Regions from separate parts of the Homo sapiens genome. Here all the other regions are reported to be linked to region 3. The links are microRNA targets in miRTarBase. Many come from high-throughput screens and were not tested one by one. Region 3 holds a microRNA gene; each other region holds the end of a gene's coding sequence. Distances are between the middles of the regions.
Evidence for each region. Region 3 holds the annotated microRNA hsa-miR-7977 (UUCCCAGCCAACGCACCA, at 1,511-1,528, shown strand). A microRNA usually pairs through its seed, bases 2 to 8, with sites in the 3' UTR of a target mRNA and lowers its output. Matches are read on the target gene's strand: a 7mer-m8 pairs with bases 2 to 8, a 7mer-A1 pairs with bases 2 to 7 and ends in A, and an 8mer does both.

Region 1: miRTarBase lists GALNT2 as a target of hsa-miR-7977. Seed matches in the 3' UTR shown: 7mer-m8 at 563-569.
Region 2: the mRNA of ZNF783 is a reported target of hsa-miR-7977. Seed matches in the 3' UTR shown: 7mer-m8 at 1,050-1,056, 7mer-m8 at 1,185-1,191 and 7mer-m8 at 1,369-1,375.
Region 4: miRTarBase lists IKZF3 as a target of hsa-miR-7977. Seed matches in the 3' UTR shown: 8mer at 2,349-2,356 and 7mer-m8 at 1,187-1,193.
Region 5: the mRNA of MRPS17 is a reported target of hsa-miR-7977. Seed matches in the 3' UTR shown: 7mer-m8 at 2,100-2,106, 7mer-m8 at 1,952-1,958, 8mer at 1,769-1,776 and 7mer-m8 at 1,640-1,646.
Region 6: miRTarBase lists PHF7 as a target of hsa-miR-7977. The part of its 3' UTR that is shown has no 7-base or 8-base seed match.
Region 7: the mRNA of DMWD is a reported target of hsa-miR-7977. Seed matches in the 3' UTR shown: 7mer-m8 at 1,589-1,595 and 7mer-A1 at 1,196-1,202.

What each region holds. Positions count from the first base shown.
Region 1 is chr1:230,279,161-230,282,253 of GRCh38, reverse strand. GALNT2 (polypeptide N-acetylgalactosaminyltransferase 2) reads right to left here. Exons shown (of 16, transcript NM_004481.5): 16 at 132-2,951. The coding sequence ends at 2,796. Among named protein-coding and RNA genes, the nearest start is that of PGBD5, 150 kb to the left of the region's middle.
Region 2 is chr7:149,282,052-149,285,051 of GRCh38, forward strand. ZNF783 (zinc finger protein 783) reads left to right here. Exons shown (of 6, transcript NM_001195220.2): 6 at 1-2,937. The coding sequence ends at 292. Among named protein-coding and RNA genes, the nearest start is that of ZNF783, 21 kb to the left of the region's middle. RefSeq lists a silencer at 2,932-3,000.
Region 3 is chr3:176,513,593-176,516,685 of GRCh38, forward strand. MIR7977 (microRNA 7977) reads left to right here and starts at 1,511; the gene lies at 1,511-1,559.
Region 4 is chr17:39,763,024-39,766,116 of GRCh38, forward strand. It overlaps IKZF3 (IKAROS family zinc finger 3), which reads right to left. Exons shown (of 8, transcript NM_012481.5): 8 at 1-3,093. The coding sequence ends at 2,767. Among named protein-coding and RNA genes, the nearest start is that of GRB7, 27 kb to the left of the region's middle.
Region 5 is chr7:55,954,580-55,957,669 of GRCh38, reverse strand. It overlaps MRPS17 (mitochondrial ribosomal protein S17), which reads right to left. Exons shown (of 3, transcript NM_015969.3): 3 at 1,170-2,761. The coding sequence ends at 2,492. Among named protein-coding and RNA genes, the nearest start is that of MRPS17, 4.2 kb to the right of the region's middle.
Region 6 is chr3:52,422,946-52,426,038 of GRCh38, forward strand. It overlaps PHF7 (PHD finger protein 7), which reads left to right. Exons shown (of 11, transcript NM_016483.7): 11 at 146-696. The coding sequence ends at 372. Among named protein-coding and RNA genes, the nearest start is that of PHF7, 14 kb to the left of the region's middle.
Region 7 is chr19:45,781,812-45,784,893 of GRCh38, forward strand. It overlaps DMWD (DM1 locus, WD repeat containing), which reads right to left. Exons shown (of 5, transcript NM_004943.2): 4 at 2,830-2,904; 5 at 1,136-2,479. The coding sequence ends at 2,432. DMPK (DM1 protein kinase) reads right to left here and starts at 679. Exons shown (of 15, transcript NM_004409.5): 1 at 382-679. The coding sequence starts at 541.

The DNA of each region.
Region 1 (3,093 bases), not on the chromosome of region 3:
GCATCTGCAAAAGGTGATAAGAAACAGCCACTGAGCAGGAGCTGCAGAAGGCTGACCCCAATCCCAGTCCCCACACCCACCCCACCCAGCCCTCACACACCAGGACAGACTCTGGCCAGCAAAGAGCGGTATCTAGAAAGTATCTTCTCTTTATTTAAGTTAAACAATTTTCAAGGATGGTTTCCATCTATAAAATGGACAAAGTACAAGCTCTGTACAGCAGTTCTTTTTAAAAATCAACTGGAAAAAAAAATTACCAAACTATATTTTGAATTTGCAAAACATACTCACAGATACCATCATCTGAGCTTTTATGAGGACATAAGAAAGGACCAGCACAGAGAAGACAACTAACTTCGGCACGCTTTGCTCGAAGGGCTCTTAGGAAAGAATTCTGAGTTTTAAAAACAGGAGTGGGAGGGTGAGATAGTCCTGATGATTAAAAACTAACGCAACCGCAGTAAGTCACTTTGGCACACTGTGTCATGTAAACATAGCTCACCGCAAAGGACCCCTCCCCGGCCCACCCCTGCTCTTGACGCCCGGACCATCCAAAGCCGCCTCCCAGCTCAGGGACAGGACGCCGCCCCCAGGGCATGGGCCGCACAAGGGTCTGGGTAGACACGTGGGATGATAGGAAGGCTGAGAGGGCCTAGGGGTGCGGGCGGGGTAAAGGTGAAGGGGCAAAGGATTCGTCAGAAAACGTGATTTTAAAACGAGCCAGATTCATCCATTTCCCTCCTTACAGTAGTAGCAGCTCGCAGGTCACAGGGTCTGACAGAAGAACCTGGGTGCTGGGGGCTACGCACACCCTGCTCTGGCCTGCACTCCACAGCCTCGCACAGGTACCTAAGGGGGTTTTCCTCAGGCTCCCCCCGAGCGCCCACCGTGAAAGACAGAAGCGTGCGGAGTTACTCCAGCGTGGGGGCACGCTGCCCACTCACAACACATCTGGTTGCATGGCAGGGGAGGCGGGAAGAGAAGACCTATAGGGCAGCCCTCCAGCCAGGCTTCCACCTCGGGGCCGCTGTCCTACAGTGCACACATGTGGGGCTCCCGCCGGGGAGGAAGACACACAGTGGCCCCTTTCATACAAGACACAGGGAGGAGCATGGCACCGGCACAACCTCCCAGGGTGGCTCCTAACTCCAAGGCCGCCGCTGTCCCACCGAGGGGCCTGCAGGTGTGCCTAACTGACGCTTTTCTCAGACTGCCAGGCCGTGCCAGCCTCTCTGAGACTGAGCATCTGTGTGTGCGGCGCTGGAGAAGGCGGCCAGGAGTGGAGGAGGAAGCAGGGCACCGACCACAGAGTGGCAGGGGTGACGAGGAACATTCCTGAGCACCCAGGTAGAAGCCAGGCACCTCTCCCCGTTATGACTTTCAGTTCATAACTGTCTGTGGTTTAACAGGACCCCAAGGCTCCTGTCTCCCGCCCTGAATCCTCAGTGTAAATGAGCAGGTATTGTTTGGTTCTGACCCTTCCTAATTCTTTCCCCAAAGCCCCCTGAAGCAGTCATCTTGGCCAGGCGGGGTGTGGGAGGGAGCTGCGGGCGGGGCAGGACTCGCTGCCTGGCTGGAGCTCCCCAGGCCAGCAGGTGTGCAGGACTGTGAGCCAGGCCTGTGCCCTGGCTGACGGGCTCATCCCTGACACTGCTGGCCATTAATTCTGAAGGCCCAGCGTGCAGGGCTCAGATCACAATGAAGCCAATACTAGCGTGTGACAGCTGCCTGGCATCATTGGTCTGCCCTGTCGCCAGGGGGCAGCGGTATTGCTGGCTCACACAGAGCTATGGGGTATGTCTTATATTCCTTAGAGAAAAGAAATTTAATGTAAAAAGACCCAAAGTGATATCTGTCAAAATAAGTAACCGCTCCAGGTTCACAGATACGCACAGCACGCAAGGTGGATTCTGACGCACAGTAGGGACTCTCAGGCTGACGCCCAACAGGGATGCCGGGGCCGAGGCCGGTGGTCTGGAGGAAGCCCCCCAGCTGGCCACAGCAGTAGCACCAACTGGCTGATCGGGCTCCAGGGGACAAAGGCCACCTCCTCCCTCTGTGAGAAACTGGCCCCACCGGGCTCTGGCCCCTTCTCCCGGAAGCTGCGAACGGCTTTGTGGGGAATATACAAGATGACGATGATCTACAGAAACCATAGGGAACTGACCGTACATTCTTTCTCTATATAGCTTTATATTTAGTGTCCCACCATAGAAAACTTCATCCTCAATATAGCAAGTACATGAGGTGGAGGGGAGTCTGGCCCAGGAAGACACTTGCGAATGGAGGAGCAGAGAGAGGGACTATTGACGTAAACCTGCCACGTGACACGACTCGGCTTTGTGGAAACCATACGTGATTTCGAAGGGATTGAAAATGGAGATTTCAAGAGTTCTCCTCGCTCCCCTGGGGCATGTGTGCCCCCTCCTCCCGCCCTGTCCTCAGCTCGCACGCATCCGTTCAGTTGCTTCTACCACTCCCCAGTCGGTTGTCGCTGGGTGTCACTCAGTTGCGGAGCCGGCAGAAGTGAAAGCTGGAAGGAAGAGGGGCGCTCCGGCCTGGGGAAGGGGGCCCGGCTGGGCTGCACCGAGAGGAGGGGGAGGGCAGTTCTCGCTTCTTGCCGCTGCTGTGTCTGCACAGTCGTCCGTGCCTTGCCGAAGTTTGACTTTCAGACCATGATGGAATACTGAGGTATATTAGTTTCGCGGAAAGTTTAAGAAACATAATCAATAATGTGATCACCAGACTCCACCCAATGGTGCAGGAGACAGGACGGCAGGGCCTCCCGGACCCTCCTACTGCTGCAGGTTGAGCGTGAACTTCCACTGCTGCGAAAGGGCCGGGCCACACACCTCCACGCTTAGGCCCCCGCTCTTGGCCGTGCGACTGTCCAGGCACAGGTTGCTGCCCACGTGCCTCAGCTTGGAGTTGCCCTCGATCTGTTCCCATTTCTGCAAGACACAGGAGAGTGCCTTAGAGTGTGGGCACAAGCAAAGGAGTACAAACAGATTCGTGTGAATTCAGGACCTTGTGGCTGCATTAAAAACTCACAGATAGACACGTTTTTCCCAGCCTCTCATCTGAACGGCCGAG
Region 2 (3,000 bases), not on the chromosome of region 3:
CCTGCTGCTGCACCAGCGCCTGCACACCGGCAATGGCCAGGGCTGGCCCGCCTGCCCCTACTGCGGCAAGGCCTTCCGCCGGCCCTCGGACCTCTTCCGGCACCAGCGCATCCACACCGGTGAGCGGCCCTACCAGTGCCCCCAGTGTGGCCGGACCTTCAACCGCAACCACCACCTGGCCGTGCACATGCAGACCCACGCCCGAGGCCAGGTGGGCCCACACTTCCCTGCCGCCCCCGCCCGCCACGGGAGCCTGCCCCTGCCCTGGCCCAGCCGGAAGGAGGAGGGCTGACCTGGCAGGAGCCCACAGAGGACCCCTGGCGGGGTCTCTCCCCTGTGCCTGACGCAGGTTCTTCCTTTTCCTGGGATGGAGAGAGGTTTGTTGTTTTTACCCATTCAAATGGGAAGCTAGCTGCCCTTCTGGTGACATTGTGTGTGACCGGGTGCTTTCTGTTTCCTGTTTGCACTCTTCGCTGCCTTTTCTGCATTCCTGACTTCTAAAAGATGCCTTAAGGCTTAAGGGATGCCATATTTTTGATAAGGCCTCTGGTAGGTACCACAGCCAAGAGGACCAGAGATCATGGCCCTTCCAGTATGGGGGCGATAGAGACATCGGGGACCTGGGATTTTTGTTTTGTGCAGAGATCTCCTGCCTGCTGTCACCATGAGAAACAGTGGAGTGGAGTGGATGGATGGCCTGACTTGAAGAAAGGGCCCTGGAAAGTTTTCTACTTTGCTATTTTGAAATTTTTTTCCCTTCTTATAGAGACTTTGAAATACTTTTGTAAATGTGTGTAGTTGTTAATGGAACTTTGCCTTTTGCAAAGTCGGAAAGAGTCGGCTTTTCCATGTGAGGCTCGCAGAGCTGAAAGGGGAGCTACGTCCACCAGCCTGTGGGTCTTTTGGTTTTTTTTTTGTTGTTGTTGTTGTTTTTTTAAGATGGAGTTTCACTCTTGTTGCCCAGGCTGGAGTGCAATGGTACAATCTCCGCTCACTGCAACCTCCGCCTCTCGGGTTCAGGTGATTCTCCTGCCTCAGCCTCCTGAGTAGCTGGGATTACAGGCGCCCACCACCACTCCCGGCTAATTTTTGTATTTTTAGTAGAGACAGGGTTTCATCATGTTGTCCAGACTGGTCTCGAACTCCTGATGTTAGGTGACCCGCACACCTCGGCCTCCTGAAGTGCTGGGATTACAGGCGTGAGCCACCACTCTTGGCCCAGCCTGTGGGTTTTGATGGGGATGTCTTGGCTGCTGTCTTGGAGGCACAGTGTCTCCCCATGTGTGTGTTTCTTGGCCCAGAGTGACTCCCAGTATTCCTAGTCCTTCCCCACAGGATAGTCACATCCATTATTTACTTTTGTTGTCAGCTGGGAGGGGAAACTGAAGCCTGGACACGTCTCCCCAAGGGCTCAGTGTTCATGGGTGTGTAAGATCCATTGACTGGACCCCAGAAAGCACCCTGAGGGGCAGTGCAGAGAGAGCCCAGGAAGCCCCTCCACTAGAGGAGGCCCTTGGTCTGGCTGAGGACCACGTCCACCCTGGGCCTCCAGGCCTGCTTTTCACATTAAAGGCGGGGCAGTCTCCTCTCAAAGGAGTTCTCCCTTGAGCACTTTGGGCTCTGGGGCAGAGTTGGGCTAGGAGATCTGGGTGAATCCTTTAGTCACAGCTAGTCTCATGTTCCTCTTCTGTCAAAGGGGTCATGGCCCCAGTGTGTCCTACCTCAGAGTTGTCAGGGTCAAAGTAACAGGCACTGGGACAAATATGAAGCCTAGCTTTGTGCTTCCTTTCAAATTCAGGGCCTCCTTTCTACTCCATTCCAGCCTTTTTTTCCTGTCAGAATCCCTCAGGAAGGACCTTTATCTTCTGGAGTGAGTGGCAGTTCCACTGGGTTCAGTGAAAGAGTCGCCCATGGGGCTCTGTTCCCCAGGAGTCCTTTGTATTTTGGTGAACAAATTCTTACCAAAGCATGAGATTCGGACTGTAGAAGTTCAGACTGCCTCAGTTCAGACTGCCTCATGGGGCAGTCTGGAGGTCAGCTGGCTTCTGGTGTCTCTCATCACACCACTGCGGACGCTGTCTGTAGAGCAGCCTTGGTGTGGGTGACTCTGAAGCTGGAGTGATGGGACCCCAGCTATCCTTGTTTTTTACCGCCTTGTCTGGCACTGTGACCACGCTTCAGGGCTGCTTCTGGGGGTCTTGGTCCCTGGATGTGCCATTTCCTTGCCCTTCTGACCCTCACACTTCTTCCAAAGTCTTGAGCAGAGTTGGGGGCCAATGGTAGCATTGCTGTCATCTCTGGGAGGAGAGTGAGTATACAAGTCAGTGACAGTTCAGCCAGGCTCCCTTGGGTTTGGGAAGAGGCACTGCCCTTCTGTGCTGTGGATCCTGCTTGTCTGCTCTGGAGTCCCCCCACCCTTGCCAGGAGCTTCACAAACCAGAGACGGGCTGTCAGCAAGAGCTCAGACAGGATGTGGTGCAAGTGCAGGTGCACGAGTTTAACCCTCAGCTGCAGGAGCTAGTCTCAGGTGTTCTGGGGATGCCTCAGGCTAAGAATTTTGCCGACTTTCTGGGCTTGGTTGGCTAATGCCAAATGCCCCTGCTTAAATATCACAAGGTGCTGATTCTCCTTTTTTCTTTTTTTCATACCAATGTGCTCAAACTTTGAGCTAGGTCTTGTGAGTTTGCCTAGCACTCAGACCTGTTTAAGTAACGTTCTTTACATTGAAACAAGTCAACCGAAGCTTTGTGGTGCAGGAGCTGAGGGTGCCCCAGACTCAGTGGGAGCCCTGGTTGGGCCCCAAACTCTCCCAGCAGGGTCCTCGGTTTCCTCATTTGTGAAATAAATGAGTGGGCCACGACGTTAATAAGCCCAAGAGAACTGTGAAGGTGGTAGTCCCTTGCCCTAATTGGTGCTCAATAAAGTTGTTGGCATAAACGAGTGCGTGCGCTTGATCTGGTTTCTGCTCTCTGGGAGGTGAGTGGCCGTGCGGGGCGGTGG
Region 3 (3,093 bases):
TTATGCCATAGAATATGAGGTGCTCTTTCTACAAAGTCTCAGGGTTGAAGCAGTCCCAGTGCTTTAGAATATACTCCAGGGGAGTACATGCTGAACATGATCTGTTACCCATCTAGAAAGAGAAGTGAGAAAAAGGTGTCTCTTTTGTCTCCTTCCTCTCTCTGTATAACCCAGAGTGGAGAAGAAGACAGTGGGAGCGTCCCCCCAACTGTTTTCCTTCCTTGGTTCCTGGGTCCCAGCACCCTGTTAAATGTGCTGCCCATGGTTGTATGTGTGACCCTCCAAGCCATGGCACCAAAGAAACCAAGCAACTGGGGCTAGTCATGCTCATTCAAGTAGCTCTAGTCCTCTGCCTGTGATTTCCCTTTGACTTCCTAGACTTGTGTGACCTGTGTGCCTCCCTTAAAAAAAATTGACCTTGGGAAAGATTATATAAAAGGCAAGTGTCCTTTAATGGAGGGAATGTGCTAGATTGCCTGCTACTATGGCCCGTGTTAAAGCCTTAACCCTTAGAAAAATGGTTCTGGTTAACTTTCAGACTTAAAATCCCCTTACTAATTAAGGACTGTCTTATTGGAGACAGAATAGTTTCCTTAAAGGGATGTGGGGGCCTAATCGTGACTTTCCTGTTGATGGGACAGGATCAGGACTCAAATTTGGCTGCAGAGGACAATTTACTCCTAATTGTTGAAGGCAGAATTTTCCTGTTCACAGAAGCAGCATAAAGCCTGGTTTCCAGTAGGAAGGGGCAAAAAGGAAAAATTAGGAAGCTGCGGTGGACTGTAGCGGACAAGCAATGCGTCTTATGAAGAGGGTGTCTATTTCCACTAGGTGGCGCTGTTGGCTTAGGAATACTATGTGCCACCAGCAGCATAGTAGGGACTCATCTCACAACCGGGGTTTCAGAGACCTCTGTTCCTAGAAGATTGCAACAGCATTTTCCTGAGCTATAGCCCCGGTTATTACAGCATTTCCTGATCTTGCCTAACAGGATTACTTCCCTAGGCTGTAAAAATTCCCACACATTCGACACACAAAGAGAATAAGAGGCATAGCGACCGTGGATAGAAACAGAAAAAAAGTTTTGCGACAGGATAACTGGGGATCTTTTACCAACACCTGGGCAGGCTGCTGGAGGCTGAGTCCGGTCCAGAAGCTTTTGAATAACACTAGGAAATGCCCTGGCCAGAAATTCTCAGTTGCTTCAGAACTTTTCCCCGCCTTATGCAATGGCTAATTTTCCCCATGAACAGAAAAGCTGGTTTGAAGCACGGCCAACATTCCCAATGACCCAGGGTATTGGAGGGAGGGGGGTCTTCATGTTCTCCCCAGCAAGGCTGACATGCGAGTCTTTAAGAATGGCAGCCACACTAAGCATATCTAGATGGTTGACAGATGCTGTTATTGATTTGATTTGATTTTAAAATGGAAGCCAAGAGCCTCGGAATGAAAGGACAGGTTTTGAGTTTGCTCTTCTGCTCACCAACCCCAATGGATATTGTACCTTGGTTTCCCAGCCAACGCACCAAAAATGATATGGGTCTGTTGTCTGGAGAAACACCCAAGGTCCTTGTTCTCGCACGGAGAAAATTAGCGACACGGATACACGTGGAGTGGTTTAAGGAGTGGAATGTTTAATAGGCAAGAAAGAAGAAAACAGCTCCCTCATACAGAGGGAGGAGGGCTCCAAATGGAAAACCCCACATGTAGCAGAAAGCAGTCGGTTATATTGGGAGGCTGGACGACGTGGTGTTTGGTTTGCATAGGAGCCAGGGGATTGGTTTGACCAGGTGTGTCATTCACATAGCCTGCAAAAAAGCCAGCTCTCCCACCCTAGCCTTTAAATATGCACATATGGCTACCTGGCTGGTCACCATGATGTTCTGCATACGTGGCAACAAAGAAAAAGTCACGGGAACCACCATATTGGTTGGACCTGGCTTCTAGCCACCAGCATTTGCATATCAATGCTTGCAGGTCTGGTTTTTCAGGCCACTTTCTGTTAGAAAAGAAATGTTTTGGGGCTTGCTTTTTTATTAAAAGAAAAAGCCTTACCAAGGACTCTTTTCCCCTCTCTTGCTGCCTAAAATAATTTCTTAATAACTCCTGTAATACTAGTGATTCTTCGATCAGGAATACAACTTTTCTATAATTTGTGATTTCAAACGTGTCAAGATGGCAGTGACATCATTTTTTCCCATGTGCTTTCTGCTTCTTCGCTTAGAAAATCAGTGGCAGATTTCTCCCAGTAAAGAAGACATATTATTTTAATGTTGCCAAATATTTTATAAATTATTCCCTGACTTATGCTCAAACAGTGACTATAGTTGAAACATCATCCTGCAATGAAGCTCAAAGTATACCAGTCTTACCTATGCGTTCAGAGCTTCAAACAGTTTTTAAAATCTCCGTCTTTAAACGTGAGAAGATAAGCAAGAATTAACAGTTGAAGAAGGCTTCTTTTGTGAAAGAAAAGTACTGGGAAAACAAAACAAAACAAAACAAAAACTGGAGGAGAGAGATAATATAAAAAAGAAAATGTTTAAAGCTTATCGTTGTCTTAAAAGAAGTTTCGTTAATTAAACAAAAAGAGCTTTCTGATTTTAAAATTACTGTAGGCCAGGCATAGCAGTTCGCACCTGTAATCCCAGCAATTTGGGAGGCCTAGGCAGGTGAATTACTTAAGCTCAGGAGTTCAAGACCAACCTGGGCAATATGGCAAAACCCCATCTCTACAAAAAATACAAAAATTAGCCAAGTATGGTGGCACATGTCTGTGGTCTCAGCCACTCAGGAGGCTGAGGTGGGAGGATGGCTTGAGCCTGGCAGACAGAGGTTGCAGTGAGCCTAGATCACATCACTGCACTCCAGCCCAGGGACAGAGCGAAACCCTGTCTCAATAAATAAATAAACAAACAAACAAATAAAATTACTATGGAGCTATAGAAATCAAAATAGTGTGGTACTGACATAAAGATAGGCCTATAAATAAGGTAATGGAACTGAGAGTCCAGAAGTAAAGCCTTCTAATTGTGTCAACTTTTTCTTCAAAAAATTTGCCAGGCCAATTCAATGAGAAAGGACAGTCTTTTC
Region 4 (3,093 bases), not on the chromosome of region 3:
CCAACAGGATGTGCGATATTTCAAGAACGTAATGAGCAACTCCTCTTTCACAAAGGGAATAAGCAATCTGGCATAGCTTGGAGTCTAGTATTACGGAAATACAGTGATATACTGAAGACTACACACCAAAATACATCCATTCCTTTAGCTGAAGTCTCAAACATGTTGGGACTGTTGCCATGGAATTTCATAAAACCTTTTTTCCTGAGACAGACGCCATGCCACAAAGAAGGATAAGCCATTTGTGCAGTCTGAGGTGGAACATTTTAATTACTGGCAGCACATAGACGAGTTGAGTTGGAGCCGAATGCATAAGCCCCTTAGAAATAAAACACTAATCTACCAGGAATTTGGGATTCTTGGCTCTGGTAGAAATGTTACAAATTAAGCTGACTCTTAATTTGTAAATAGGCTCCATGAAGTTGTCCCTGGAAGCAGAATTTATTTTCCCTAACATAATTTCTTAAAAAGTAAAAAAAAAAAGAAGGCTTTGGCAAACAGCTGCATGTGCCAATTTGTGTGTATGCTTTGTGGCAAGATCAAAATACCTTTCTGTTTTTTGTTCCTCTCCACCACCTTCTTCACATTCACAACTCAGTGGTTAAAGGAAAAACTTAACACACCATTTTCATACCAAAGGAATGTGAAACATGTATTCATATAAATACTCTTCTGCTTAATATCCATACATTAGGAGGTTTAAAAAATACCTTGTGGTTACTGCATAATCACATATGAATTAAAGCTAGAAGGGACCTAAGAGAACATTGAAATCTAATTCCTATTTTATGGATGAGGAAACTGAGTTTTTTTTGTTTTTGTTTGTTTGTTTTTGTTTTGTTTTGTTTGAGACAGGGTCTCACTCTGTCGCCCAGACTGGAGTGCAGTAGTGTGATCTCCACTCACCGCAACCTCAACCTCCCAGGCTTAAGCGATTTTTCTGCCTCAGCCTCCGGAGTAGCTGGGATTACAGGCATGTGCCACTACTGCCCAGCTAATTTTTGTATTTTTAGTAGAGACAGGGTTTCACCATGTGGGTCAGGCTGGTCTCGAACTCCTGACCTCAAATGATGCGCCTGCCTCGGCTTCCCAAAGTGTTGGGATTACAGGTGTGAGCCACCGAGCCTGGCCGGAAACTGAGTTTTAAGAGTTAAATAAGGCTGGGTGTGGTGGCTCACACCTGTAATCCCAGCACTTTAGGAGGCTGAGGCGGGCTGATTGCTTGAGCCCAGGAGTTCAAGACCAGCATGGGCAACATAGTGAGACCCCTATCTCTACAAAAAGAACAAAATGTAGCCAGACATGGTGGTGTGCACTTGTTGTCCCAGTACTCAAGAGGCTGAGGTGGGAGGATCACCTGAGCCTGGGGAGGTCGAGGCTGCACTGAGCCATGATTGCACCACTGCACTCCAGCCTGGGCAACAGAGTGAGATCCTGTCTCAAAAAAAAAAAAAAAAAAAAAGTTAAACGATTTCTCAAAGTCACATAGCTAATTAGCCAGCATTTTGTGACCTCCTATTCCAGTGCTAATTTTACCATGATAACAGCACTCCTCCTGATAGTATGTACATATTATGAGTGACAAGGATGACTTATACATCTGCAGAACCGTGATCAGACTTTCAGGAATTTTCATGGAATACAGCAGTTCCATTTAAATGGGAAAAAAAGGGCCGAAGCCTGCCTGATCAAGGAGAACCTCTCAATAGAGGTGTCCCTCCTCACCCCATTCCGGAGCTCAACTCCGATCTAAACACACATGCCATCTATCTCCAATTCCTCTCCTGTGGGGAGGGGGAGGCTGAGCCATACTTTTTGGACTTTTTTTGTGGAAAATATCATTGGCAAATTTGCTTTGGGTCTGTATCACCAATTCTCCATGAACTCTTTCAAGAAGTTTTAGGTAGCTGTTTTTTGTTTGTTTGTTTTCTGTTGGTGCTGCCAAACAATTTCCCCCTTTATACCCTTGCTCTGCCAACCTTGACCAAAGGAAAGCGATGTCATCATCCACAGTGGATAAATTTCTGGAGTTTCGATGATGGTCTATATTTAAAACCATGAGTTCTTCTGGCATAGATTTTCTTCTATAGACAACTGGTTTAGCCCAAAGCAGCTCAGCTTTTCACTGGAGATGGGAAGGTAAAGGACAGAAGCAGAAGTGCCATCAGATGACATTTTTTAAAAATGTTGTGATAGGAAATGGATCTGATGCTTGGAGAATGGGGTCTTCAGTTACTCGTAACAGATACTTATTTTATGGCTGTTCTTTTACTTACTCTTAGACTGTCATTTAGATTAGGGAGATTAGATCTTAACCCTTCAGCCTGTGAAGGGCAGAAGGGTGAGGCTTCCCAGCAAGGTCAGCTGGTCAGCTCTTCCTCTTTGTGGATTTGCATGTATGACTGAAAGGCTTTTCCACGTGTGGTTGATATATCTCAGAAAGAATGTTTCATATAGCACATCTCCGGGACCACTCATTCCACTGCTGTAGAAGATAATGACCAAATACCTTTTTGGCTTTTAAATTCCATAAAATTCAAGTCCCTGATGGGAAAACAAAGGTTTCACAAAAGTAATAATATGCTAGACCTGCGAATAATTTCTGAAGGAAGACAGTGTTTCCCTGGCTACCCCTGTGAACACAGCTAAAAATGGTATGAAAAGAAGTTTGGAACTGAGTATGTTTTGAGAGCAATCTGTTAGGCGAGGTCATTGGTTTTTAGAAACGATGCTGAATACATAGGAGCAATCCCTGAGACCAGATATTCACTTCAGCAGGGCTCTGTGTTCTCCTCTGGCTATGTGAGACGAGAACTCATACCGATCATGGCTTCGATATCCACACATGTTACACTCGAAAGGGTCACGGAAGCCGTGGCAGCCCATGTGAATCGTGAACATCACATAGTCCAGGAAGAGGACGCGGCAGTGGTCACACCGATACACATCCATCACCTCCCCTTCCTTGTTGATCACTTTGACGGAGTCTCTTGGGCAGATGGGCGGGGGCTTGAGGAGTTCGTAAGAGCGGGGAACCTCCTTCAGAAGTGGCATCCCATTGCGGGCCCGAGACAGGACCATGTGATTTTGCTG
Region 5 (3,090 bases), not on the chromosome of region 3:
GTTGCAGCAATCCTCATCTGCTTCCGGAAGCCCTGGTTATACTTTCATTCACTTTGTGGATTTTACATTCCCTTTCCTCTGCCTCAAATGCCCTTTCCACCCCATCATCTACTGTCCTGGAGACTCTTGCTTCAATGCTTACTTCTAGCACCATCTCATCTCTCCTGAGAAGTGACCTTCAATTCACCCTCACCCATATCCTGTTTGCCATGGAGGCACCTGTGCATACCTCCCCAACTAGATTGATCCCTGAGGCCGGCAAGGCCTGTGATCATCCTGGAAACCCTGTGCTTACACAATACATGTATCAAGGCTGGGCACGGTGGCTCAACGCTGTAATCCCAGCACTTTGTCAGGCTGAGGCGGATGGGATCACCTGAGGTCAGGAGTTCAAGACCAGGCTGTCCAACATGGTGAAACTCAGTCTCTACTAAAAATACAAAAAATAATAATAAAATTAAAAAAAATTAGCTGGACATGGTGGCAGGCAGCTGTAATCCCAGCTACTTGGGAGCCAGGAGAATTGCTTGAACCCAGGAGGCAGAGGTTGCAGTGAGCTGAGATCACACCATTGTGCTCCAGCCTGGGCAACAGAGCGAGACTCCATCTCAAAACAAACAAACAAACAAATATGTATCAGCTATGATTGAAATATTCCCCTTTTGGCCAGTCGCAGTGGCTCACGCCTGTAATCCCAGCACTTTGGGAGGCTGAGGTGGGCAAATCACCTGAGATCAAGCGTTCGAGACCAGCCTGGCCAACATGGTGAAATCTCGTCTCTACTAAAAATACAAAAAAAAATTAGCTGGGCGTGGTGGTACACTCCTGTAGCCCCAGCTACTCGAGGAGGCTGAGGCAGAATTGCTTGAACCCAGGAGGCGGAGGCTGCAGTGAGCCAAGATTGTGCCACTGCACTCCAACCTGGGCAACAGAGGGAGATTCGATCTCAAAAAAAAAGTCCCCTATTCTCTTTCTAGGGGCCAGAAAACGGAAATATACTGCTCAATGCTTCCTTAAGTCAAAATCTAAATTATCGTGGTATATTAATGAATAGCAACAAAACTCACTCTCCATCCCAAATGCATGTGGGAGAAGTCCTACAACTTAATGTGTCAGATTTTAGGAACTTACACCTATTTAATCTAGCCTAGGATGTAAGAAAAGTGGCACAGAATTGTAAAATTTTATTTTCCACACATCAATATTCTTATTAACACAGCTTGATTGAAAGAATTCTGACCAGTGGCTGGTCATTACATGCAGTGGCTCATGCCTGTAATCCAAGCACTTTGAGAGGCCCAGGCGGGCGGATCACCTGAGGTCCGGAGTTCAAGACTAGCCTGACAAACATGGAGAAACCCCATCCCTACTAAAAATACAAAATTAGCTGGGCGTGGTGGCACATGCCTGTAATCCTAGCTACTCAGGAGGCTGAAGCAGAATCACTTGAACCTGGGAGGCGGAGGTCGTGGTGGGCTGAGATCATGCCATTGCACTCCAGCCTGGGCAACAAGAGTGAAACTCCAGCTCAAAAAAAAAAAAGACTTTCTTCCTTCAAAATAAAGGTTCTAAGATAAATTCAAAATTCCTTTGAATGAAATAAAGGAAACCGGCTGGGCACAGTGGCTCAGGCCTGTAATCCCAGCACTGTTAGGCCAAGATGGGCAGATTGCTCCCAGGAGTCCGAGACCAACCTGGGCAACACAGGGAGACCCTGTCTCTACAAAATTTACAAAAAATCAGCCAAGTGTAGTGGTACGCTCCTGTGTTCCCAGCTACTCAGAAGGCTGGGGTGGAAAGATGCTAGAGCCAGGGAGGTCAAGGCTGCAGTGAGCCAAGATCATACCACTGCACTCCAGCCCCCACAACAAAGCAAAACCCTGTCTCAAAAGACAAAAATAAAACCTTCTAAAACAGTGAGCTTGCTAAGCACAGTGGCTCACGCCTGTAATCCCAGCACTCTGAGAGGCCAAGGCAGGCAGATCACGAGGTCAGGAGATCAAGACCATCCTGGCTAACACGGTGAAACCCCGTCTCTACTAAAAATACCAAAAAAAAAAAAAAAAAAATTAGCTGGGCATGGTGGCAGGCGCCTGTAGTCCCAGCTACTCGGGAGGCTGAGGCAGGAGAACGGCGTGAACCCGGGAGGCGGAGCTTGCAGTGAGCCAAGATTGCACCACTGCACTCCAGCCTGGGTGACAGAGTGAGATTCCATCTCAAAACAAAAAACTGTGAGCTTACAAAATGCAACAGACTGCTAGGCACACTTAATGTAACGTGGAAGTATGTTCACTGAAATGATGAAAATTTGAAACACGACCATAAACCTTTGTGAAAAACCATAGTATGCCCTTTACTTCATTTGCTTTTAGCTATTTCATAAACACCACAGAGAAACTGGACACAGTTTGTGATGAAACTTAGAAAAATTTCTTTTTCCATAACATAAACATGTCAGTTTTTCCCTTTAGATCCTTCTTCCACTCCCGCTTCACTGTGCTGAAGAGATATTGAGTTCTTCCAGATTTTTGCTTAGCTGGGTGGTTTCCGAACTCAACGGACTCTCCAGGTAGGTAGTTCCAGCACAGGGCTTTCCTGTCACTGGATCTATGACTTTTCCAACTTTGAAAACGATCTCAGCCAGTTCATGTTTCACATGCTTTGCTCGTGGAACAGGTAAAGCTCTGAGAAGCACAATATCCCCAACTGTGCACTGCTGAAGGGCATCGTGAGCAAAGTAGGTTTTCCGCTTATTAAAATACTGTTGAGAGAGGGAGAGAAGCAAATCAGTAGTTCCCATCTGTGACCTGGTAATGTAATATGTAATATGAAAAAGTAACGTATGGAAAACAAGCCAGGACTTAGGAAAAGATAAGATACTAAGGAGGCTTCTAGTACAAAAATTAGAGCCTGAGTGATATAGTGAGACAATCCAGTGAGATGGATTCTCGCTCTGTTGCCCAGGCTGGAGTGCAATGGCACGATCTCAGCTCACTGCAACCTCCGCCTCCCAGATTCATGAGATTCTCCTGCCTCAGCCTCCCAAGTAGCTGGAATTACAGGTGCCTGCCACCATGCCCGGCTAATTTT
Region 6 (3,093 bases), 120 Mb from region 3:
GGAAAGGAGGAAGACATCCCACCAGAGGGGGATTAATAGTTGGTGCCTTTGACTTTGGAAGGAAAGTAGCTAGAGAGGAGCTTAAGGACCTGTGCCTGGGAGAAGCAGAGGCTTGAGTTTTCCTCTCCTGCCTTTCTCTCACCAGACTACATACCTGAAAACTCAGGGGACATCCCTTGCTGCAGCAGCACCTTCCACCCTGAGGAACATTTCTGCAGAGACAACACCTTGGAAGAGAATCCGGGCCTTTCTTGGACTGATTGGCCAGAACCTTCCTTATTAGAAAAGCCAGAGTCCTCTCGTGGCAGGAGGAGCTACTCCTGGAGGTCCAAGGGTGTCAGAATCACTAACAGCTGCAAAAAATCCAAGTAACACCTTCTGAGTAGCTGCTGTCCCACACAATAGGGTATGAAGCTGCGCTCCTCCATCGGGTTTGGGGAGGGAGCACTCTGGGACTGTGAGACAAGGAAGCAGGGCCAGCAGTGAGACTATGAGCCAAGCAAAGAGAAGTCTCAGTGGAGCATGAGGAGGGAGCAGTCCAGATGCCAACAAGGAAATGCGTTTATGGCTACAAGAGTGCCTCTGCTTTCTCCTCCTCTCCTCCCACCAAGGATTCTTCCACCTTAATCTTGTTTTCATATGCCTCTTCTTACTTCACCCATGTTTGTTGTTATGCAAATAAAGGTTTTCTCTCCATTGGTGTCTCCTTATAAATTCATTCTGAAATTTGTCTGGGTAGTAAAGATTCTACGGGGTAGAGTACGAGAGTAAGAAAACTCACCCTCCTAATCCATAAAATTTAGGGAATTAATGTAGAACTTTTAGCTTAGAATATAGACATGTTTCTTTGGAGGGAAAGAAACCTGTTTATACGGAAATTGGCATTACAGAGGTAGAGAATCTTCATCAATCATTGTGCAAATAATAAGTACACAGGTTCTCATTAGGGAGGTGAGCCAGCATAGCAGTCCACACTGGGTGGAGAATAGGCCCTTGTTGCAAGGCTTGGGGTCCTGGACTCAAACAGGTCAAGGACTACCATGCTTATACATGGGGCATAAGGGACTCCATTCTCTCCTGACTGGTGTGGGCTTCAGCACACCTCCACAGCATGAGTGAGCCCAGTCAAACCCTCACTGCCCGGTGGTTCGAGCATTTCCGTCCAGAGTTTAAATATGAATTTGCATGCCAGGACATTCAAATTAGGCAAGGTGGCCGGGCGCAGTGGCTCATACCTGTAATCCCAGCACTTTGGGAGGCCGAGGCGGGCAGATGACTTAAGGTCAGGAGTTCAAGACCAGCCTTGCCAACATGGTGAAACCCCATCTCTACTAAAAATACAAAAATTAACCGGGCACGGTGGTGGGTGCCTATAATCCCAGATACTTGGGAGGCTGAGGCAGGAGAATCGTTTCAGTCCGGGAGGTGGAGGTTGCAGTTAGCTGAGATCGCGCCACTGCTCTCCAGCCTGGGTAACAGAGCAAAACGCTGTCTCAAAATTAAATTAAAAAAACATAATCTTCCCGTTTTCGTTCACCTCAGATAATTGTATCACAATTTTTGTTAACTTTCAATGTTTATATTATTATGATGCTAGAAATACTGTTTACCACTGAGCCAGGCAGTACACTATGATTACCTTTCCTCTTTTGTACAATGTTTTTTTCTGAAATTAATAATTGCTTCTTTTTTGGTATATACCTATTGCTAATTCTTCTGAAATGTTGCAAATGATCAACAAAATGTCTCAAAATGCAATTTTCCTCATAGACCAGGCATCAGATCACTATCAGCTGGACTTCTTTTCCTGAAGACCTGCCTCCCAGAGCCGCCGCCTCCAGTGCTGGCTGCTCCTAGAGCTCCTGCACAGCTGTCCTCCTAGGGCTTCCCACAATTATGCCCTTTTTCTTCATTTCCTTTCTCTTGGGTTTGACCACCCAATGCTATCCTTGCTTATCCGGGCGTCCAGGGAAATTTTGTCAGAGCTCTGCAAGTAACAGGAACATTTTTTAATTGTGAGCTTTCATATAAAACACAATATTTAACCCATTCTAAAGATTCAACTCTTGCAGTGATAATTCACAACTGAAAGATGCTCCTTAGATTAAGACTTTAGTTCTAAACCTAGAGTTTCTGTAACTTGGGTCACCAGGCATATTTTTAGGGATCTGTGGTAGTATTAATATCTTTTCTTAAGGAGTCTATTTGTATACCCAAGTGTGAGAAACACTATCTTAACTGAGAGTAATGGCCCCTAACAGTGCCCTCTCGACTTTAGCTTCAGTGGGTAGAAAGGGAGCTTGGGAGGGGGCAGTTTTTGTCACCTAGATGTCAGCTGCCCTACCTCTGTGTACAGTTGACTTTGTGGATACTTGCTTAGCTAACACGACAGTGCATGCATACACACACACACACACACACACACACACACACAGCTATTAACTATTTCTTACTCTTTGTATTTTTAGTCTCCACTGATGTTAATAGCCAACCCTATTTTTATAGGCTGGAAAGTCCAACTTTGAAATGTTCTATTCTTCATCTGGGCCTAATCAGTCATTCTCCACTAAATAACTGGCTTCTTTTTTTTTTTTTTTTTTTTTTTTTTTTTGAGACAGAGTCTCTTTGACCTCGTGATCCACCCACCTCAGTCTCCCAAAGTGCTGAGAATCCAGGTGTGAGCCACCACGCCTGGCCTCTTTTTGCTTTTCTTTTTCTTTCTTTCTTTCTTTCTTTTTTTTTTTTTTTTTTTTTTTTGAGAGGGAGTCTCACTCTGTTGCCCAGGCGGGAGTGCAGTGGTGCGATCTCGGCTCACTGCAACCTCCACCTCCCGGGTTCAAGTGATTCTCTCCTTCCTCAGCCTCCTGAGTAGCTGGGATTATAGGCACGCACCACCATGCCAGGCTAATTTTGTATTTTCAGTAGAGACGGGGTTTCACCAAGCTGGTCAGGCTGGTCTCGAACTCCTGACTGCCTCGGCCGCCCAAAGTGCTGGGATTACAAGCGTGAGCCACTGCACCCAGCCCCTTTTTTTTTTTTTTTTTGAGTCAGGGTCTCACTCTGTTCAGTGGCATGATCATGGCTCACTGCCCC
Region 7 (3,082 bases), not on the chromosome of region 3:
AGAGGGCCATAGAGCCCACTTTTGGGGGGAGGGTCCTAGGAGAGGGAGCTCCCAGCATGACCCTGACCCTGACCCTGAGGCGGGGTGCAGAGAGGCCATGGGAGGCTGTTGGCAGCCTAGCCTGCTGTGACTCCTAAGCCATGGCTCTGAGTCACAGCCACCCTAGCCTCTGCTGACCTTACTCTGCCCCTCCAGAGTGGTGGCATAGGACAGAGAAATGTTGCCCCAGGGCCCAGGTCCACACTCTGAGCCCCAGGATGGGAGGATCTCCCCATGCCCATCCTGCCATCCTGCCCCCCCAACAGCCAGGCCTCTGTGCCCAGACCTGTCTCCTGCCCCACCCCCACCCCATCTGCAGGAGCCCCGAGGGTAGGCACTCACCCCACTGCAAGAAGTCGGCCACGTACTTGTCCTGGGCCAGTTCGGAGGCGCCCAGCTCCTGGTGGACGCCCAGGAGAAGGTCGAGCAGGGGCTCCAGCCCCAGGAAGCCCGGGTCCAACACCAGCTGCTGGAGCCGCCTCAGCCGCACCTCGGCTGACATGTTGGACAGGCAGCACCATGGCCCCTCCCCGGGCCGGGGGCTCGGGGTCCTCCTGTCACAGGGCCTGGCAGCCCCTGTCCAGGCCCTGGAGCCCTGGCTGCATGTCTGCCTGTCCCTGGCTGTCCCCTGGGCCTCTCTGGCCACTTCTCTCTGCGGCCGGCCGAGGCCTCCTCCCCTTCTCCCCACCCCTTGGTCCAGCCCCCCTCCCGCCTCCCAGCCTTAACCCCTCACAAGCCAGCCCCCCAAGCTCCCTCCTTCCAGGGCCCTTCAGAACCCTTCAGTGCTAGAGTAGGGGGAATGCATGGAGAATCTCAGCTGTCACACTGTCACCCCAATAAAAAGGTAGAGCACAGAGGAAGCCACAGGTGTGATGAATTTCAAGAAGAACCTGCCCATTGCTGAAACAGGGCCAATTGAGGCTGAGTGACCCAGTAGCAACCACCCCCTTGCTCCCGACAAGCTCCAGAACTGGGGGCTAGGGGGTGAGGGCTGGGGGTTGGGGCTGGGTGGGAGAAAGGGGTTGAGGCCTGGGAAGGGGACGGGAGGCCAGGGCAGCTTCTTGGGTGACTCAGAGATGGATTCCGACTCGGACAGTTAAATTTAGCCCTCAGGCTCTCTGCTTTATACCAGCTTTTTTTTTTTTTTTTTTTTTTTTTCCCAGGAGGTGGGGAAGGGGTGGTGAGGACAGGACCAGGAGGGGGCACCCTCAGAGCCTGAACAGGGGTGACCTGCTGCCCAAAGGCTGGGGGAGGAAAGTGGTGGAGCCAAGCCCTCCCTGGGCAAACGAGACCCCAAAATAGCTCCTTGGCCCCTGGCCGGGGAGCCACATTCCTGCCCAGGCTGGGATTAGAAACAGAAACATTTCGGGGGGTGGAGGGTGGCGCGGGAAGACACACTCCCTGCGGCTCCGAGAGCCAAGAGGAATCTGAGCTCTTCTTTCCAGGGTGGACGGTTCTCCAGAGTGGAAGTCGGGGCCTCCAACCGGCCTGGGGTGCCTGGGCCTTGAGAGGGCCAGGCCTGAGAAACTAGGAGGCAAGGACCGAGGAGTCCCAGCTGGGCAGGGCCTGGGAAACGTGGTCCTGGGCAGTTCTGATAATTTAAAAAACACCGAGGACTTTGATGAGGGGCCCTGGCTGCGGGCAGGATGCTCTTCTCCCCAAGAGGGTCCTGCTCCAGCCGCTGGTGTGGGTCACCAGTTGTGTGACTCGCAGGTCCGTTCCCTCCCTGGGCTCCGGCTTTTCCTGCTATGAAAAGGGGTGGGAGGCGCTGGGCTGGGAGCAGGCCTGCACTCCTCCTCTGGGGAAAGCGGACTGCCTAGAACCACAGAGTACACACACAGGTCCTCTACATCATCTCCTCCGAAGGGGACAGACCCGCTGAGAAAACAGGGAACTTTAGTATAAATAAGAGGTCCTGCGGGACAGGGAGGAACCTGAGGGGCTTCCATAATTTAACACTCTTCAAAAGCACAGACAATAGCAAGGGCAGCTGGGGTGGGGGCCGGGCGAGGGCTGGACCACCCCCGGCCCTGCCCACTCAACTGAGGGGCACACTGCAGACCTGGGGCTCTTGTGGCAGGGGCGGGGAGTCTCTCCCCAGGAGTGACCAGTCACATGCTGGGGACAGGGATGAGGGTAACACTGATGTTTCAGAGGAAGAGGTCATTGTACTTGGCAGTGGGTGGGGGACAAGGCTGAGGCCACAAGGGCTATTACATCGCCCGTGTCCGGGCCAGTCTGGGGGGCCCCCAAATTTTGTGCAGGTGGGGGGACTGGAGCAGTCCATCCATCATGGTTAGTCTTGTTAATACGTTGATCTGTGAGGTCAGCAGGGAGGGTTATGGCTAGGAGGCTGGGGGCATGGGGTTGGGGGGGCCCGATATCCATGGCTTCACACCACTGTGCCACTCGGGGAGTTGCCTGGTTGGGAGGAGATGCCCTGGGGAAGATGAGAGGGAGAGATGGGAGGGGTTAGAGACCACCTGGGCTTCAGCCAGTGTCAAGGGGAGGGAGCCAGCCCAGAGTCCCCAAAGCTGCTGCCACCCTGGCCTTGCCCTTGGGTCCGCCCTAGACCCCCCAGAGGCCACTGCTCTAGGCTGGGAACTTGCATCTTAGCTAGCTTCCTGTCCTGGCAGTCAGCACTTTCACGCAATAATCAAAGTCCTTGGCGGATCCTGAGTGAGACCATGGGGTAAGGGTAAGGGTGGGAGGGGAGGGGGAAACTGGAGCTCCCTTCTAACTTGGGAGGGACCCTGAGGTGCTGGGGAAAGAACTCAGGGACAGTCCTACCTCTACCACTGACTTGCTGGGTGACCTGGGCCAACTTCCTTCCCCTGTCTGGGCCTCGGTCTCCTCGTCTGTGAACTACGGAGACAGAGGGGTCTCTTTTAGGACTCAACCAGACTCCCCAAATCCCACCACTCTTGCCTCTGAGTCACTCAGACTGTGCTCTCAAGTTCTAGGGACTCAGGACTCTACGATTCCAAAACTGAGGATCTGAGGAACCAAGCCACGGCCTCCAGGACCCTGGGCAACTGAGTCC